Regions from separate parts of the Homo sapiens genome. Here region 2 is linked to region 1. A link means that fine-mapping ties the variant in region 1 to the expression of a gene that starts in the linked region. Tissue or cell type: monocytes. Region 1 holds a variant in brackets; the other region holds the start of a gene. All regions are shown on one strand. Distances are between the middles of the regions.

Region 1 (2,686 bases):
TTTGTAGTGTGCTGGTGGATTTGATTTCCTAGTATGTCATTGAGAATTATTGCACTTCTATTCATCAGCGATATTGGTCTGCTGTTTTCATTTCTTCTTGTGTCCCATTCTGGTTTTGGTATAAGGGTAATGCTGCCTTCATAGAATGAATTAAGAAGAACTCTCTTTTCTTTGATTTTTTGGAACAGTTTGAAAAGAATGGGTATTAAGTATTTTTTTTAATGTTTGGTAGAATTCAGCATTGAAGCCATCAGGTCCTGGGCTTTTCTTTGATGAGAGAGTTTTTATTACTGGTTATATTTCATTACTTGTAATTAGTCTGTTTAGACTCTCTATTTCTTTTTGGTTCAATCTTGATAGGTTGTATGTGCCTGAGAAATTATACATTTTTACTAGGCTTTCCAATTTGTTGACTCATGGTTGATTGTAATAGACTCCAATGATTCTTTGTATTTCTGTGGTATCAATTGTCATGTCTCCTTTTTCATGTCTGATTTCATTTATTTGAGTCTTTCTTTTTTCTTACTTTGTTTAGCTAAACATTTGTTAATTTTGTTTATTTTTTTACAAACAAAACTCTTTGTTTTATTGATCTTTTGTATTTTATTTTTACTTTCAATTTCATTTATTTTTGCTCTGATCTTCATTAGTTCATTTTTCCTACTAATTTTGAGTTTGGTTTGCTTTTGTTTTTCTTGTTCCTTGAGGTGCATCATTAGATTGTTTATTTGAAATATTTCTACTTTTTTCGATGTAGGTGTTTATTGCTATAAAATTCCTTCTTAATACTGCTTTTGCTGTATCCCATAGCTTTTGATACATTGTGTTTATACTTTCATGTGATTCAAGAAATTTTAAATGTACTTCCTAATTTTTTATTAATCCATTGGTTGTTCAAGAGCATGTTGTTAATTTTGATGTATTTGTACAGTTTTGAAAGTTATTTCTGTTATTGATTTCTAGCTTTATTTCCTTGCCGTCAGAAAGTATACTTGATGTGATTTCAGTACTTTTAAACTTGTTGAGACTTGCTTTGTAGCCCAATGTGTGGTCTCTCCAGGAGATTTTTCCATGTGCTAATGAAAAAAAATGTGTATTCTGCAGCTGTTGCATGAACTATTCTGTCAATGTCTGTTAAGTCTATTTGGTCTAAAGTGAAATTTAAATACAATGTATCTTTGTTGACTTCCTGTCTAGATGATCTGTCCAGTATTGAGATTGGGTTATTGAAGTCTGCAACTATTATTGTATGGGAGTCTATCTCTCCCTTTAGATCTAATAATAATTGTTTTCTGTAGCTAGGTGCTCCAGTTTTGGGTGCATATATATTTACTATTGTTATATGCTCTTGCTGAATTTATCCCTTGTCTGTTTTATTTTTATCTGATATAAACATAGCTACTCCTATTTGATTTTGGTTCCCACTTGGGTAGAATGTCTTTTTCCATCCCTTCACTTTCAGTCTATATGTTTTTTGATAGGTAAAGTGAGTTTCTTATGG[G/A]AAGCACATAGTTGGGTCATTTAAAAAATCCATTCAGCCAGTCTATATATTTTAAGTGGGGGATTTAATCTGTTTACATTCAAAGTTATTATAGGTAAGAACCTTCTTCTGTCATTTTATTCATTGTTTGCTAGTTGTTTTGTATATCTTTTATTCCTCTCTTCCTCTCTTATTGTTTACGATTGTGGTTTTGGTAGTTTTCTGTAGTAATAAGGTTTGATTCTTTTCTCTTATGTGTATCTGCTTTGCCAGTGGATTTTATACTTTTGCATGTTGTCATGATGGTAATGATCCTCTTTTCACTTCCAGATGCAGGACTCCCTTGAACATTTCTTGTAAGACAAAAAGCTCAATATTGTCAGGATGTCAGTTCTTCCCAACTAAATCTATAGATTCAGTGAAATCACAATGAAAATATCAGAAAGGTTTTGGGTTTTTTTTTTACAATTTAAATTTTTACTAGAGAAAGATATTATTCACATCCACAATTTCTTAAAGTCCTTTATAAATGAGTGTATTCCATAAGAAATACACTAAAATCATTACTTATGTTTCATAGAGGGAAAAAACTATGAGAATACTATTAACCCAAACTATATCCATATTATACTTATTTCTTAAGCATTTACATGTTCAAATACGCTTGTTGGATAGTGATCATTCATCCCCACAGTGGTAAATTTCAGCATAATATTAAGTGACTGAGAGAGACTAAAGTAGTCACATGTAGATTAGATAAACAGATACTTATTCTGTTATACCTAAGCTTACTTATAAAGCAACATAAAATGAGCATTGGATAACAATGAAAACAAATGTAAACAAACAGAATTAAATGTTACTCCCTTCCCTGAAAAACAACAGATAAAAGGGCTTCTTGCTTTATTGAATACAAAACATGATCTATTGTAATAAAAAGGTAAGACATTGATTTTACAAAATTATATTTCCAAATACAGATAAAAAAATCTTGAACAGTTAATTCAGATTTTATTGATCTAAAATGTGCAAAATATCTGATAATACTTAAGTTTATTAAATTCATTGTACATAGGCTGATATCATCCCATACAAAAAAATGCTCAGTATCTTGTTAAGATTCAAAATAGTGTTTAATTATCTGAGCTTAAGATTTATTGAACTACTATCCAAATAACAACAAAAGTCCATATTGTAAAAGAAAAA
Region 2 (2,686 bases), 27 kb after region 1:
AGGAGAGGAATGAGTGAGTGAGGAGAAGAATGAGTGAGTGAGGAGAGGAATGAGTGAGCGAGGAGAGGAATGAGTGAGCGGGGAGAGGAATGAGTGAGTGGGGAGAGGAATGAGTGAGTGAGGAGAGGAATGAGTGAGTGAGGAGAGGAATGAGTGAGTGAGGAGAGGAATGAGTGAGCGGGGAGAGGAATGAGTGAGCGAGGAGAGGAATGAGTGAGTGAGGAGAGGAATGAGTGAGTGAGGAGAGGAATGAGTGAGTGAGGAGAAGAATGAGTGAGTGAGGAGAAGAATGAGTGAGTGAGGAGAGGAATGAGTGAGTGAGGAGAGGAATGAGTGAGTGAGGAGAGGAATGAGTGAGTGAGGAGAAGAATGAGTGAGTGAGGAGAGGAATGAGTGAGTGAGGAGAAGAATGAGTGAGTGAGGAGAGGAATGAGTGAGTGAGGAGAAGAATGAGTGAGTGAGGAGAGGAATGAGTGAGTGAGGAGAAGAATGAGTGAGTGAGGAGAGGAATGAGTGAGTGAGGAGAAGAATGAGTGAGTGAGGAGAAGAATGAGTGAGTGAGGAGAGGAATGAGTGAGTGAGGAGAAGAATGAGTGAGTGAGGAGAGGAATGAGTGAGTGAGGAGAAGAATGAGTGAGTGAGGAGAAGAATGAGTGAGTGAGGAGAGGAATGAGTGAGTGAGGAGAAGAATGAGTGAGTGAGGAGAGGAATGAGTGAGTGAGCAGAGGAATGAGTGAGTGAGGAGAAGAATGAGTGAGTGAGGAGAAGAATGAGTGAGTGAGGAGAGGAATGAGTGAGTGAGCAGAGGAATGAGTGAGCGAGAAGAGGAATGAGTGAGTGGGCAGAGGAATGAGTGAGCGGGGAGAGGAATGAGTGAGCGGGGAGAGGAATGAGTGAGCGGGGAGAGGAATGAGTGAGCGGGGAGAGGAATGAGTGAGTGGGCAGAGGAATGAGTGAGTGGGCAGAGGAATGAGTGAGCGGGGAGAGGAATGAGTGAGTGGGCAGAGGAATGAGTGAGCTGCCTCCCTCTCTTCTCTGTGTTCCCACACCCCAGCCACCCTCAAAACCCAGCTCCCTGAGCCCCATTCCTGCCCCTCAGGAACTCCATGCATCCTGAGACCCCAGACCCGTCCTGCTGACAAACTCACCAGGCCCTGGTGTCCCCAAAACCAGTTCTGTTTCGGGGGTTGAGGAAAACACTGGAGGCGGCGGCAGTTGTCATAGAAGGTGTAGGTCCAGGCCAGGACGCGGGCCAGGAGCCAGGAGCCTCCAACCAGCAGCAGAAGCAGCCACGGGGATGCTGCCACGGGCCCGAGGCCCAGCCAGGACAGGCTCAGCTGCGGCATCCTGCAGGGCAGACGGGATGGAGGGTGGGATCCTGAGGCCCAGGGAAGGGCCCAGGAAGCTCCAAGGACAGTGGAAAGGGGCAAGGATGGGCAGTGCTGGAGGCAGATCAGGGAAGGCTCTGAGATGGGTAAACAAGAGCTGAGATCTAAAGTCCAGAAATGCCCAATGAAAACCAGCAGCCAAGTGGCCTCCAGTTACACAGAAAGGGAAAGAGAGAGAGAGGCTGATTAGAATCCAAAAAGGCCCAGCCTGAATCACTGGGAGGTTGCCAGGGGTCCAGTTACCAGGAAATCACCAGTCTCCCAGGCCAGCAGCCTTGACCCACCCCAACCTTGGGCAGTCCCCTCCCCATCCCAGGCCAGGACCCTCCAGCCCTGCCACTGCCAGCCTGGCTCCTATCAGAAGCAGCTTGTCCCACATACCCTCCTCTCCCCCTCTGCTAGGAGGTCTTTGCCTCTGGCCCCTGATTTCCGGAAGGCTGTGGGAGGCGAGGCTGGGCTGGGCTGGTCGAGCCAATCCCCATGGACTGGGTGTGTCTTCCAAGCCTGGGCAACCAACCAAAACCTGGCGTAGGGCCAGCTGGGTGCAGAGGAGCCAGCTCAGGGTGACACAGCATGGGCACAGGATCCGCAGGTCTCAACATCTCACACCTGAGTGGGAGGGGATCTTGAGGAAGAGTCAAAGGTGACTCTGAGCCCCAAAGTTTACAGCCACCTTGCCCTTCCAAGGCAAGAGTGTGGCAGATAAAGTCATGAACTTGAGAGTTCAGGTGGCAAGAGAGTGGGGCCAGGCCAACCATTGTGCCAGATCATGTTCTGAGCTCCTCTCCACATGTGGTCCAGGAGTTCATCATGCACCATTTCTCAGTGCAGACTTAGGAGATTCAGAGACAGAAGCTCCTGGCCTCTGGCTTCACAGTCTGGCAGGAGTTCAAGTCCTGCCTCCAGGCAACCCAGGGCCTGGGTCGAGACATGACTGACAGGAGTAGGAACAAACTATCTAACTGTGCTGGGGATTACCCGGTCAGATTTTAGAGATAAAGAGCCCCGCTGGAGGAGAATACCTGGAGGCTAGGTTCAGCATAGGAGGACAGAGAGGGGAGATGGGAGGTAAGGCTGAGAGGGGCCATGAGTGGATGGGGCCAGGGACAGGAGGGCAGAGATGGGGGACCCTGAGTGGAGTCCTTATTCTGCCCTCCCCTTGCCCTAACTGTGGGTAGTGAGCCCCTCCTGGACTCAGGCTTCCCATCTGGGAAATGGGATGTCAGATAAGGCCTTAGAGGGGGACAGAGGAGGGATCACAGGAAAATGGGCCTTAGATGGGGACAGATGAAAGATTC

Evidence for each region. PIP is the estimated chance that this variant, and not a neighbour inherited with it, causes the effect.
Region 2: CYP4F11 starts here. The variant in region 1 is fine-mapped to the expression of CYP4F11 in monocytes (TOPMed, PIP above 0.99).

What each region holds. Positions count from the first base shown.
Region 1 is chr19:15,905,829-15,908,514 of GRCh38, forward strand. It overlaps the pseudogene LOC729654. Among named protein-coding and RNA genes, the nearest start is that of CYP4F2, 9.1 kb to the left of the region's middle. The variant G/A (reference allele first, on the strand shown) is at 1,502.
Region 2 is chr19:15,933,063-15,935,748 of GRCh38, forward strand. CYP4F11 (cytochrome P450 family 4 subfamily F member 11) reads right to left here and starts at 1,467. Exons shown (of 12, transcript NM_021187.4): 1 at 1,149-1,467. The coding sequence starts at 1,346.